2 linked regions of the Homo sapiens genome follow. The main gene of each other region encodes a partner of the protein of the gene in region 2 in a complex. Each region holds a gene or a part of one and is shown on either strand. Other genes may lie near its edges. A codon is read from its position in the direction of its gene.

What was found. The genes of interacting proteins can lie anywhere in the genome.
Region 1: the proteins of NDP (region 2) and FZD4 are in contact, whole or in part, in a crystal structure (PDB 5BQE), measured with the Homo sapiens proteins. Residues at the interface, in NP_000257.1 of Homo sapiens: Asp33 (codon at 4,849), Ser34 (codon at 4,852), Pro36 (codon at 4,858), Arg38 (codon at 4,864), Met40 (codon at 4,870), Arg41 (codon at 4,873), His42 (codon at 4,876), His43 (codon at 4,879), Tyr44 (codon at 4,882), Val45 (codon at 4,885), Asp46 (codon at 4,888), Lys58 (codon at 4,924), Met59, Val60, Leu61, Lys102, Lys104, Leu106, Tyr122, Leu124, Ser125; in NP_036325.2 of Homo sapiens: Ser51 (codon at 2,558), Met52 (codon at 2,555), Gln54 (codon at 2,549), Asn55 (codon at 2,546), Leu56 (codon at 2,543), Gly57 (codon at 2,540), Gln95 (codon at 2,426), Phe96 (codon at 93), Met105 (codon at 66), Thr107 (codon at 60), Lys109 (codon at 54), Ile114 (codon at 39), Asn152, His154, Met157, Cys158, Met159, Glu160, Gly161, Pro162.

The regions. Positions count from the first base shown.
Region 1 is NC_000011.10:86,952,378-86,959,887, forward strand, and holds the start of FZD4 (frizzled-4 precursor), read right to left. Parts: upstream 3,019-7,510; 5' UTR 2,709-3,018; coding exon 2,424-2,708; intron 534-2,423; exon of another isoform or gene 94-533; coding exon 1-93. UniProt on the Homo sapiens protein: Receptor for Wnt proteins.
Region 2 is NC_000023.11:43,956,377-43,963,397, reverse strand, and holds part of NDP (norrin precursor), read left to right. Parts: intron 1-2,503; exon of another isoform or gene 2,504-2,613; intron 2,614-4,545; 5' UTR 4,546-4,752; coding exon 4,753-4,926; intron 4,927-7,021. UniProt on the Homo sapiens protein: Activates the canonical Wnt signaling pathway through FZD4 and LRP5 coreceptor.

The DNA.
Region 1 (7,510 bases), on a different chromosome or scaffold from region 2:
TCTCTTGACTGAAAGACACATGCCGCCGCATGGGCCAATGGGGATGTTGATCTTCTCTGTGCACATTGGCACATAAACAGAACAAAGGAAGAACTGGAAAAGTAACAAAATGAACACACACAAAAAAAACAATGACTTGGAAGTTTGACCAAATGCTCCCACAAAGCTGAGTTGAATGCTTCCAGGCAATCTAGGTATCTACTTTTAAACCAACCTATCGGGAGTCTGTCTGTTTACTCTGACCTCAAACAAGGGCGCCTGATAATCCATCACTTACATACTTTTCTTAGTTTGGCTTTAGTAATCCTTTCCAGAAGAATGTACATAAATAAATAAATAAAATAAATAGGGTCTGAAGAATTGCATAAGCCCTCTTTGCACAACACTTGAAATAAATCTTAAAAAACTGGCTTTCAATCTCCTTCCATTTTAGAAACTATTTGAAAAAGCTAAAGAAACTAATATGACTCATTTAGGTGGTTTATTTTTATCCCCGTTTCTTTATCATTTTAAAAATAAAAGTTAAAAAAAAATGTAGATCCTGTTAGTATTCTCTTCTCCCTAATTTATCCCTTAAAAATTTGTTTAAACTAGTCCCATACTGAAACAAAAAATGGCCCAAATGAGACACTGTTAGACTCAAGGATGGGATGCAGATTGAGGTCTCTGGTCACTAGGGATTTGTTTGGCCAGGTTTCCTCAATGAATAATAATGAAGCACAATAGGAAAATGTAAATGTTAAGTCGCTGAAACTGCAGTACCAGCAGGGGAGAGTCCAGTTGCTGTCCTCAATTCCTCCAGCATTGATAAACAGTCTGCTTGGCTCCTTACAGATGTTGTCTATGAAGTCTAGAGTTACAAGTAACTATTTTCCAGCATGTAAAGGGATCCAGTCTTGTCCTTCAAAACAGCTTGGCCGCTTTCCCCAGGATACATGTAATTAAAAATATATATCCCTGCAAAAGCTGTTTCTCCAACAAATTGCCACTGATGTCAGGATATGTGCTGTTTCCAAACTGAGAGCTGGAGGATCATTTCTTAAGCTTTTATAACCTAGTTCTAAAGTTCTGAAACTTCCAAAGGGATATTTTAGCAGCAACAGGTCTAATCCCCACCATCTTTCCAAAACCACAAACCAAGTTTTAAAATGACCTATGTAAAAACATGCACCTAGTAAGTAAGCTGTATGTCTGTTTATTATCTCTCAGAAGTTACAGCCAGAACCACAGATTTCTTTTCTTTTCTTTTTTTTTTTGATACGGAGTTTCGCTCCTGTGGCCCAGGCTAGAGTGCAATGGTGCAATCCCCGCTCACTGCAACCTCTGCCTCCTGGGTTCAAGCGATTCTCCTGCCTCAGCCTCCTGAGTAGCTGGGATTACAGGCGCACGCCACCACGCCCGGCTAATTTTTGTACTTTTAGTAGAGACAGGATTTCGCCATGTTGGTCAGGCTGGTCTCGAACTCCTAACCTCGTGAGCCACCTGCCTCGGCCTCCCAAAGTGCTGGGATTACAGGCGTGAGCCACTGCGCCCGGCCAGAAACCAGATTTCTGAAGCCTGGACAACTAACGTCTACTTTTTCCCACAACTTCTCTCTTTTCTAAATTTCTAAAAATCACCCAGCCTCACCAACCCAAACATAACCAATGTTAACACTTTAAAAATTTTCCTGTCAGTCTTTTATTATCCCAATAAATTTTTTATTTTGCAGGATTATAATCACCCTGTATATGCAAATTCTTATTACTGTGGAATAAACATTTTCTCTATCATTAGATATGCTTTACATTTTTTAATGACTGCAAAAAAATTTCTTCCAATATACCAACCACCTTCCTGCAGCTTCTTCTCACCCTCCAAGCATTAAACGTGCCTTCAACTGTGAGGATAAGAAAGAACTCAAGCCAACCCAACCACTCCTTCATGCATGACCTCTAAAACGCTGCGGGACGTCGTGAGAAGGGGCTATTCAGCAGAAAAAGGTGCAGTAGTGTTTCATTTAATAACACCCCAAAAATAGTGGGGAGAAGGAAGTTCGGTGAAGGATGGTCTCCTTATCACTCCCTCCAAGTCTTAGCTGCAGCTGGCTCCCTCCCACTCGCCCACCGAGCAGTGGCGGCCAGAATCCTTGGCAGAGATAACCCTCAGCTCCACTGGGGTTAGGGGTCTGGGCCAGACATGGGTGGGCAAGAGAGAAAAACGGAAGGGCGGGGTGTAAGAGTGGGTTCTTTCCCAGGCCAGATGACTTACACAACGTTTTGGCTTCCAGTCCCTGAGAAAGTGGGGGTGGGGATGGAAATCACTTTTCCAGGAGAGCTGTCTCCTTCGGGCTAGGATGATCAACTTGGCATGGGCTCTGCAAAGTTAGTTTGGAGCGTCCCTCCCCAAGGGGTCCCGCCAGGGGTGGGGGTGGGGGCGCCCACCTGCAGCTGGCTGGAGCAGCCGTACTGGATGAGCGGTGTGAAAGTTGTCAGCTGCAGCTCGGCGTCCGTCTGCAGCTCGTGCCCAACCAGGTTGGGCATCTTGGTCACGTTGTAGCCGAGGTTCTGGCACATGGAGATGCGGATGGGGTCGCAGCGCCGCTCTTCCTCGTCCCCGAAGCCCCGCGCCGGCCCCAGGAGCAGCAGCAACTGCAGGAGCAACCCCAGACTGAGACCGACGCCCCCGGGCGCCCCCGGGACGCTCGGCCCTGCGCCCCGCCAGGCCATGGCCAGCATCGGGGGTAGCAGCGGCAGCGGCTGGGGCTGCTCTGGCAGACACCCCCAGTTTGCACGGGGGCGCCGGCTGCCCGCGCTGCTCCCAGCTCCCGGGACGGGAGTGTGATGCGGCGACGAGGGGGCAGCGGCCGGCTCTCCAGCAGCTGCGCGCGACTGTGTGGGATTTTAGACGTCCCGGGCCGAGGCCGAGGGACAGGCTGCGAGGGTCATGGCTGCAGGCGGCGAGCCCACAAGCCGGCGCCGGCCGCGTCCGTTCGGCGTCTCCGCGAGGCCAGCCAGCAGCCAGCGCTGCGCAGCTCTCACCGCCGGAGCCCTGCGCGGCGCTGGAGGCTCGCGGCGCGGCGGCGGGGCGGGACGGACAGCGGGCCTCTCCAATGGCCGGGCGCGGTGGGCAGCTAGGGGCGAGGCGGCGGGGCGGGGCCGCTCTCCCGCAGGAGGAGTCAGGCCCCCGCCCTCCGGCCCCCTCCTCCGGCCGCCCCTCCCTCCCTCCCTCCCCTAGCGCCCCGCCCCGCCCGCCTCCCGGCTCTTGCTTTCCTCCCACCCGGATCTAGGCGCGCAGGGGCCAAGCAGGGACGCAGCCCAGTGGCTCCAGCCACGCCGTCCTGCCCCCTTCTGCAGGTGAGAAGTGCGCCCTGTTCCATCTGCCCCCTTTCCTTCCTGTCTCCTTTCAGCTGTAACCTAGGCCGGTGGCCACCTCCCCGTCAGGCAGAGAAACGTACACAAAGAATTGGGGATTTGGATTTACACCGATTGTGGCTTTCAGTCCCGGTTGTGTGACCTTGAGCAAATTGCTCAACCCCTCGGCGTCAGTCTCCTCTGTAAAGTCACTTGGGAGGATTAGAGATAAAGTGTAGAAGGCTTAGCATGGTGCCTGGTACTGCGTGAGTCCACAGCTATTTTCACTCCGGACCAGCGGCGATCGGGGCCCGGCCTCTCCCCGCCCCCAGACTCGCCCGACCTGCGCAGGGAGCCGCCCACCTCCAGCCGCCAGCGGGGAGGCGCCCCAGAGCTGCGGAGCTGCAGACCCGCCGACGGTCTCGCGCTCTGATTTCCTCACCGTATGAAATGAAATTCCACAGGGGGATTCGAAAGGAAATGAGACCGGGACTCTCCGTGCTTCTCGGCCCGCCGCCCTTCCTGTCTCGGGGACACGGTTTCTAAATAAGGTTGGGAGGGTGAGAGGGCGGGAGGGGAGAGGCTTGACCTGTGCACTGGGGACGAGGAAGGCGCACAACCACCGTGACTCCTCTCTCCCGGCCTCCCGGGCACCCCCTCCCCACCAGGCTGCACCCCTTTTTTTCTTTGCTTCTGCTTCGGCTCCTAGGGATCTGGGGATCATGTGACCCAGGTTTGAACCCAACTTTCCTGTCTCATTACCAGCCCCCCGCGGCTTTGTGCTGGTCCACCCTCTCTCTGCTTTCCAGTCGGCCAGTAAACTCCCAGCAGGTGGATTCCTCCACCGTTTACTTGTTGCTTGACTGTGTTGAAGCTATGGTGCCTCTCTGAGCCTCAAAGTGGCCGGCTGTAAAGTGGGGAAGTTCATATCCACCTCACACAGTTGTTCTAAGAGTTCAGTGAGATAATACCTGTAAATCATTTAGCAGTGTCTGACACATAATAAATGCTGAAGAACTTGGTGATTGGGGTGTGTGTGTGTGTGTGTGTGTGTGTGTGTGTGTGTGTATGTGTTTCCAAAACAGCTAGGGGAGATCAATTATGGGACAGCCTCCTGCTTTCCAGCCTGGTGCTAAAGACAGCTCCAGCAGCCCCGGAATGAGGATCTGGGTAAAAGGCTTTTCACCCTCTTCCTGAGATCTTTTTGTCCAACACTTGCCACTGTTTTATGCATGTTTTTATCCTCCCATTTCAGCCAATTCTGTGGCATATGGCAGAGGCTAGATGCAAGTTGGAAGAATGTCTGTGCCACTCATGTGACACTCATATTCTGTCTTGTATTTTTAGTCTTCTTATATTGGCAACGAGACTTGACTGAGGGCAAAAATGGAATCAACTTTTTTTTGGTATTTGGCTCTGTGCCTAGAACTGTGTTGGACACGGAGAAGCTGCATTGTCTCCAGTCATCATCATAAACTCCCAGTGAAGGAGGTTCCGTTAGCTCCTTATAGAGATTAGGAAACTGAGGCTAGAACCACAGTAATAGAAAATGACAAGACCAACCAAACCAGGGCCCAGAAGAGGCTCTTCAAAGATGGAAGGCAGGGCTATTTTCCCAGAAAAAATTCCCAGCTGGAAATCAATGTACTCAGCAATAGGATTGAATCTCTGTGTGCCTGTGCTGAGTAATGCATAAAACCCTTGGCCTACAGAGATGAATAAACGATCAGATGTAGAGATCAAATGATCTATTAATCATTTGGGTTACAGAGATGAATATATAATCAGATGAACAGATCAAATGAATAGATAATCCTCATCCTTTAGGATCTCACAGGAGGAGACAAAGGATTAACAAACAACAATAACTTAGTTTGCTAAGTGCACAGATAGAGAATTGTGGGTGAATTGAAGGTAGAAGTGGCTGAGTCTGGAGGGCTACTCAAAGGGGGATGACCTGCAAGACTCGTAGCTACTCAACAAAGTGTAGTTAGTATGCAATTGGCCCTTCTTCTAGGGAAGAGTGGTGGTGGTGGGGTGTGCTTTGTGCTGAAGATATGGTTACATGGTTTATTAAACAGTGAACTCCCTGAGGTCAAGGAGGAGGACCTGTCCCTCATACAGGGCCTGGCACACAAGGAACATCATTTGTTCTGGGTGAAGGAATACTGTTTTCAAATCAATAACAAACCACTCATATAGAACTCTTACTTTCAGACACTGTGTTACATGCCTTACATTCTTAATTTTATTTATTTCTCACAACTTGCAGAAACTGATGCTCTGAGAGGCCAAGCAGTTTGCCCAAGATTACACAGTAAGTCGTAGAGAAGAACTCATGCATGTCTGCCTGGCCCTAAACTCTGTGTGCATGGTACTGCTCTTGCAGAGGAAACTGCTTCACGCCCAGCCTAATCCATAGTTAAAGATGACCATTTTGTGATCTGGACCTCTTATTCCTAGACCTGGCATCCTGCCTCAGCTTGCTTGAAGCAATTGTCTCCTTTGAGAACACATGAAGAAGCCCCTTCCCTATCAGAAGCTTTTTCTGTCAACAGCTTTTCTTTCTAGTCGTGGAACTCATCACCAGTATTTTCCAAAAAAGAAAGCTAGGGGAATCACATTTCAGTCTGAATGTGGAAAGACAACAAAGACCATAACTTAGAGCTAAATCTGAATGGCCTGGAGCCCCTCAGCCTCCCTCTCCTGGAGTGGTTTACACAGTCCACAATCTGCCCCTGGTGACAGGCATGGCATGTTTGTCTTTGTTACAGAAAACACTTCCCGAGGGAGTCCCAGGCAGAGGGATATCCACCCTGTGACATGCACAGCATTTCTGAGAGGAAAAGATAGGGACACCTGAATAAAGTGTAGGCCATGGGCCCCTGCTAACTCTGGCTTGAGTGCCTGGGCAGTTTCCTTGGTCCAGCCTCTGAGCAGTAAAGATTCAACTACTTTGGAGCTGCAACAAACATGACTTCAACAGTCTGTTGGGCAGTTGGAGGGCTCTCCATTTGTATCTAATAAGAGGCTGGGTTCTTATTAACTCCGGTGATGTGTTAATTTTTCAACCTGACGTTTTCTGCTCTAATAGATTCTTGTAATGCTTACTAAATTAAAGGCTGCATTGGAAGAGTAATGTTTAGGTTAAAATGCATCACCTAAGGGGGTGGAAGCTATAAACATCCTTTCCCTCCTACGGGAAAATCTCTCATTTGCGGCTCTTTGCTAACCCAATTAAGTGCTGAAGTAGTTACCCTAGAGCCTGCTTTTTATTTCCTATGAAACAATCCAACTAATCCATATTCAGTAGCTTCCAAGAAAAGTCTTATTCCAACCACTCATGAAGAAACCAGCTTCTTTGAATCTAGATAGAACATTTAGAACTCACAAAGAGCTGTCTTGATGGAAAGTGCAAGAAAGTGGTTCATTATTATCTGCCTGGTTTTTGAGGGAAATAATTCACTGGGACTAAAACCCCATAAGTATTGGGAATTTACTGTGGAACAACAAAAGCAAAGCAAGAAGATGCCATGCCACATTCCATCCATTTATAAATAGGGTGTTACATCTCCCCCTGCACCCAAACTAGTTATAAAACAAAAGTGCGCCTGCTGAGTAAGGTGGAAGGGAACACTGATCTTACTTCGAGCTGAGGAATCAAAGTTCCCAAGAGATTAATACCTATTAAGTGGCAGAGCCAAACTCCCTTCTTAGTCCATTGCACCACTAGCTAGCAGAGAAGAATTGTCACCACAGAGCTCTTGCATGTCAAGAAATAGAAGCTCAAAATTTTTCCTACCCATAAGTTTAGCAAGCATTAAATGGTACATCAGACATCCTTATTTATTGGTGGTGATGAGTTAACGCAAAGATGAACAACCAAAAACCTCCATGGAAGGCAAAAAATAATGCAAACACACTTTTACCTCCATAGCCTCGTTTCGTTTCAGTGAAATTGATCAGTCAAGCTGTTAACAAATATTTAGTGATGGGTTATTGTGGACATGTCATTGAGCTGGGTACTAGGGAGTATGCAGACATGTTAAAGGTGGTTTCTGCCTTCAAGGAGCTTACAGTCACATTGGGGAAGATTAAGACATGAGACCAAGGGCAAAACAAGTTTTTTATGGTTAAGTGCATTTTGTTGAGCTTTCTTATTTCCAGTCTCCCCTTGT
Region 2 (7,021 bases):
AATACTGGATACAAATTAGATGTTCAGAGAGTTTATCAATGTGTCTAAAAACCATCCAGGAAAACAACAGGCCAAGACTCTGCCTGCAGAGTCAGTGAGCTAGAAGAGGGATCGAGGATAGGAACTATATTTTTCCCCTGACCCTATCTCTTATCTGCTAGAGCAAAAGGAGACACACAGTAGGTGCTCAATAAATACATGTTAAAAAATATTTGTTGAAAGAAGCCACAGAAGGGAATATCAGTATACATTAGTATTGAAAACAGCCTAGGGGGAAATATGGATACTGAAGCACCACCCTCCTGTGCCTGGCAAGCAAGGCAAGAATAAGGCCATTCTTGGCACATACCACTTAGCCTGTTGCTGAGATAACTTGCGTGAAACCAGCACTTTACCCTCTGCCAGCCAGAAGGTCAGCCCAAGAGTGAGCTGATCTGTGGGCACAACACCATCTCTCACCCAGGAGGCTGGGCCCGCTGTAAGCTCTGCTATATTATTTCCCTGAGGATGACAGGTGGGGAAATCTGGGCACCAGTTGTTCTTTTCCACTGGTATCATTTGGAAGGTAGCTCCAAAGTCGGGCACGCCAGCCTACGTGCCTCTCCTGCCGGCAGAGGCTCCACATTGGAGCTATTAGAATGTGGGCTCTGTACGTCGGCCAAGTCCATGTCTCAGAGACTGTATCCAGAGCATAGCGTGGCCACAGGGCTACTGAGTTCAGCAAGAGAGTCATTCTCTTGTTCAATCCATTATTGCCTGGGCCAAGGTTCTAAGTCTTCGTAGGCAGCATTTGATTTTATGACACGTCTTAAAAAATTAAGGCAAACTGGAATTAATTTAGTTTTGAGAAAACAACAGAAGCTGCTACAAGGCAGAGATAATTCTAGGCTGCCAGAAAGTGGTGATCTCAGTGGTGTACATTTTCTTAATTCCTGATTTTCCTCTTTGTGAGGTCTTCCTCCCACTCCCATACTTTGCACATTCTCACCTATGCACACCCTGAGCAACACAATGTTGACAACTTGACTTAGCATTGCTCTTTTCTTAAGCTTTGTTTTCATTTCTTCTTCAATACAACAGTGTTGGTTCATTCAATTTGAACACTCAAGGCAAAAAAAAAAAAAAAAATCCCAGGTTATGTTTTCAGAATCTTACCTTTTTGTTTTTGTTTTGAGGGTTCTGTGAGTTTTGTGGCATATTTACATTGTTGCTTACATTCTTATTTCAGAATTTAAGATAAAAACTGGGCAACAACTCTCACGTTTTCTGAGTGTGTTGAAATGAAAAATCTGTTTCTTAGAATTAATGGTAAAGCAACATTTCCTGTCAATCTTTCATTCTTTAATATTACTTCTGGGTTCAGCTCACCATCTCTAAAGAGAAAGCCAGATGATCAAGTTACATTGTATGTGACATTAACTATCTCTTTATCTGTGTAAATGTCATAATATCTGCTTGCAAAGTGTTTTATTCATTTTTAGGAAAAAATTTTAAACTGTGCTTGCAATTCAGGATGGTGCTACTAGGTGGCAGTAATGTACAAGAACTATGTGGTCGCCCTGGAAGAGTATTTGACTAAGAGACTAGCATGCCTTCCCGTAATTATAAGAAATAAAAATATAATATTTTTAAAATACTCAAACTGGCACAAACAGTAAACATCCATTAACTTAGTTACCATATTTAAGCTGAGCTTTTAAAAGAGAAAGCCTTATTTTTTAATGAAATTTTAAATAAAGTATACATTCACAAGCTCAAAAATCTAAAAATACGAAAAGATATATAGTGAAAAGTCTTTCTCTCATGCCTGTCCCTCAACTACCACAGGTAACTAATTTTGTTAGTTTCTTGGGTATCCTTTCAGAGCTTTGCTATACAAATATGTGTTTTTATCTCTCTCCATTTTAACTCAAATCAATACATAGAGTTTCTGCATCCTTCCATATATAGTTGGTTAGTATATTGTTGTGTGAACATTTTAGAATATAATTAACCAGTCCCCTATTAATGGATATTTCATGCTGTTTCCAATTTTATGCTATTTCAGCCATGTGCTCATGTGATTTCACATGTAGGATAATTCACAGAAGTGGAATTGCTGGGTCTAAATTATATACATTTGCATTTTTAAAAGGTATTGCCAGATTGGCCTCTACAGAGTTTGGACCAATTTATACTGAACTTTCTCCAAAATGGACTTGTTTTCCCACAGCCTTGCCAATAGGGTGCATGATCAGACTTCGGAATCTTTGTAAATCTGATTGGTTGAACAATGTATTTCAAAGTACTTTAATTTTCATTCTCTTAAATGAGACTTTTATTCTCTTAAATTCTCTTCTATCTTTAAGGGCCCTTTATATTTCCTTTTTCTGTGGAGAAAGTGGAAATGCCAATAAATACAACGATGCATACACATGTATAGGGTTTTGTTATTGATGTAGCTTGTTTTTGCCATCATGCTGTACATGATGTTCTTTAATTTGCTTTGCTCATTTAACCATACCTCCTGGCCATGGCTCTGAAGAGAAGTTGCTGGCAGTGCAGAAGAAGGGCCAGGACTGGAATGTCTGCTTCTCTCTTCATCCTTTTGCCATTGACTCCTGGGGGAAATATCTGTAGACCGAAGCAGTGAAATCTAATCAATTCTCTTTCTGACACTAATTAAGGCTTCAAAGAGACAGATAACCACTTGGGATAATTTAGTCACAGTGAAACTTGGGAAATGGTCAGTAATATTTCATCCTCTGAAAGTGGACCCCAAGAAAGTTCTGGCTCTTTGAGTTGTTGTCTTGGTAATTTTCAGGGTAACGTGTATAGGAAAACCCAGATTATGCAGATGAAAAGAAAACAAACATGCTCTTCTGCATCCTTTGCAGATTTGAAACTTTGGGCACAGGTTTGATTTATTTCAATGAGATGTTGCTATTAGCATGAACATAAAGTGGTGCAAAGTTGTGCTGGAATATGGTCTCGTCAACTTTGGGCTCACTGTCTGCATATGGAGATGATAGTAACTGAATCCATAGTTATCAAGTGGTGGCATTTTAGAACACAAAGGGACAGCAGATGCCATCTCTGTCAACTCCTTCCCTCTACAGATGAGGAAACTTGGGCTAGAGGAGGTTGAATGACTTGTGTAAGGCTTCCCCAGCTAATTAATGGCAGTGCCAGGACTCAAGTCCAGGTGGGTTCCCTCATTACTGGTCCTTGCCCTTCCTGCAATTTATAGGACTTCCCTGAGGCACATGTGCTGAGGCTTTGCTATTGCCAGGGATTCTGTGCTCTGAAACAGCCCTATCTCACACACCCCTTTCCACTTAGGATCCCCTACCTCACACTTCCAAGACAGCTAATTGAGGCTAAATGGGTCTGATGCCATTCTATTAGTGCAAAATAAATTGGCTTATGCCAACTTGAACTCCTAATCTTGATTTTATCAACACTTTGCCCTGTTTATTCAGACTGTTCATGAGTAGGAAGTTAAGGAAAATGTTGCCTATGAACAAAATGATCAAACTTTTATCTGAAATACCTTTGAAAGTTTTCCCGAAGCTTTAATTATCATGTTCCTTTTGTTTTGGATGTAATAGCAGGCCCTCCCAATTTTCCTAAATGTTTGAAAATATTTTTGATACTTTCTGTCTTCTGTTGTGGTTAAAAAAAAGAAGGCACCAGTGTTGGCTATGCCTGGGGAGTTAGTGAGGTAATCTGGAGAGATCTCTGGACCCCAGTCCTTTGTCCAAGAGGTATGGTCAAAAGAACAAAGCAAATTTCAGAAAAACCGGTATAATATGATCCTATTTTAATGGTAAGTCTGTTCCAACAACTGCTTTCTTTTTCGAATTACACCATGTGCCCAGGCTACAAAGGCTCTGCAGAAATGTGACTCTGTTGGCAAATACGCGTGTGATACCTTAACCATGCTGGAGGCCAGTTAGCATAATGTGTATTTCAGATGCAGTTTGTCATCAGTGCTGGGTGCTATGGGGCTTAAAACAAAAACAGGATGAGCCTAGAGCACAGAAGTGGAAAATTAGGTGGGTGGGTGAGTATGGACTTGGAAATGGAAAATGTGCTTCCCTGTGGGACATGGCTTGTGTTCATTAGTGCTGACCTGCCTCCTCTCTAGCCCTGTAAGCTGACGCTGACACCAAAGCTTGCTGAGAAACTGAATAGACCCTCCCGCCCCGACCAACCAAGGACAAAGATGAGACCACCCAATTCGGTTACGTTGTTGCCAGAACAACATGTTTAATCTTTAACATGGGTTCAAACTATTCTTGGCCCTAGGAACATGGACTTCAGCAATTAAAGTCAACATGTGCTTCCATTAAACCATTGTGTCCACCTCCAAATGGTTATAAATATGTAGCATAAGCTATGGGAGTTGGGGTGGAATGGATGACAGCCTTTGCTAATGACGCTCTAGAAACCAATATTCTCCTCTCAAAATAACATGGAAAAATTCTACTTAATACCTCCTGGGTTCCATTAGTGGTTCTGGGTAAATAATTCTGGGGAAAGTAATTTCTGTTTTCATTCCAGCTGTGCAGCAGATACTGTGATGATGGATTGCAAGTGCAAAGAGTAAGACAAAACTCCAGCACATAAAGGACAATGACAACCAGAAAGCTTCAGCCCGATCCTGCCCTTTCCTTGAACGGGACTGGATCCTAGGAGGTGAAGCCATTTCCAATTTTTTGTCCTCTGCCTCCCTCTGCTGTTCTTCTAGAGAAGTTTTTCCTTACAACAATGAGAAAACATGTACTAGCTGCATCCTTTTCTATGCTCTCCCTGCTGGTGATAATGGGAGATACAGACAGTAAAACGGACAGCTCATTCATAATGGACTCGGACCCTCGACGCTGCATGAGGCACCACTATGTGGATTCTATCAGTCACCCATTGTACAAGTGTAGCTCAAAGGTAAGACCAAGGTCTCTGTGAGGAGAGCATTTCCCTCAGAAACAGGCAAGAAGCCATATTTCTTTGTCAGGGGATGGAGAACTAAGATCATAGCCCAAACTTAAGTGATGTGGCTGGCCCACAGGGCTTGTGGGAGAATGAGGCTTTTAGAATTTCCCCCCGTGCTTTGCACTGTTATCAGTAAAAGTGCCTAATCAATCATGTGCACACCCATCCAGTGGGACAGGTGTCCTTTGTCCCTGGCTGTGATGTTTATGAGTGGTAGTGTGCTTTTCCAAAAAAGAAAAATGGAGTTTACAAGTCATCATAACTCTCTAGCTCCATCATCAATAAAGAGGAAGAGAATGCAAAGAATGCGATTGAGCAGTGGAACATACTTCTTGGAGGGCTCTTTAAAGAGATTCTTGGTGAAATAACTGGCTTTGTGGTCTGAGCCTTTCTTCAGGTGCTACATTTCTGTTCAAATGATTTCAAAAGATAAGATGGCAATATGATCATTTATCATTTTTACATTGCTTATCCAAATCGTTCTCATTTGGAAAAGGATGCATGTTTCTTGCAGAGGCAGTCCGTGCCTCAGTGGTGTGCAAGGGAATATCATGCTTAAAAGGCCACCAAGAGTGGCCAGCTACATGGACCACCCAGAAGGGAGGCACATTGTAGGGTGGAACATACGAGATCTCACGACTGTCACTGCCCCTAAACAGGCACAATGAATGAAATTTGTCCACACTTGGTAAATAATAATTTGTTTAGCCCAACCTCAGAGATTTTTACATTTAGTTTTGAGATGAAAATCACTTAAACATTCTCGTATGGCAAGTAATTTTTGAAATTACCAGTATAATTAAGAATTTTTTATAGTATCAATCACCAGAATTAAGACCATATAAGCCAATCCCTCCACTCTCCATTCAAAAACATTATGACTTTTGTATGCCTTGAAAATTTCCATTAATTTCTCTGATTATAGCTCAGTGATGATGATTCATTTTAGTTTAGGAGGATCAGAATTCGAGTTAAATCATTTTAACCATTATATTAATAAGATCTATGACTGTGGGAAAAAATAGAGATTTTCCACTTAATAAAAACTTTCTGGCTCTTATTTGTGCTTGTAGAACCAAAAAAAAATGGAGTAAATAGATGAACATAAATTTTTGCAGGGCCACAATTCCTTCTTAGGAAAGGGAAACTAAAACAAATTGAGAAAAAACATGAGAAGTGCTTTTACAAGTGTGATTGCTCAGAAATTGTGGGCCCATGTAAGGTTGACTGCAGCAATTATTAGTTTCTCCTTCCCTCCCCCTTCAGAAACAGACAGCATGAATATTTAGTGATTTTATTCCATGGATAATTTCTTTCCGTATTGAGTTGTCCTCCATAATCGTGATTCTTTTTTAAAAAAAGGAATTAAAATTATTTCAAAGAAAGTGTCACTATGATGATAGAAAGGAACAAAGAAATAGGAGCATCTATAAAAACTAGAAAACAATCTGGAAAGACTGGACAAAATGATGGAGGAGTACTTTGGCAACAATCACATTAATCTAGCGAAGGTCAAAGAAGAGACATCATGAACTCAAACCGAAGAAATTCACATGTGAATTCTGAGCATGAGTCTTAGAAACAGACTTTAGTGTACTGTTATTCACCTTTGTTTCTTCCAGAAAGCCATGGCAAATAACAGCGCAAAATTGTGATAGCAGGAGAAATGTTTGTAATTTCATGGGAACAATCTGTTTTCAAACATCCCAAACTATCCCAAATATAGCAATAGTTTTATGTAAATGGTGCTTGCAATTATAAACCTTTCTTCCCTGGCCATAAAATATGCCTGGCAAAATCTCAACTACCCAGACCTTTTCTAGGTTAGATTTTTCTCTATGTATCCAGGAGCAAAACTGTTTTCATTTGGAAATGTTCTATAATTCTTAACTCTTACATTCTCGGGCTGATCTTTTCTCTAATGGGTCTCACTTAATGAAATTGTTTGCCTTTAGAGACTTGGATAAAACATTTAGCCTATGTCTAGAAAAGAGGCAACAACAATCTACCCTAGCTTCTTTTTACAAAGAAAAGACTGGGATAGATT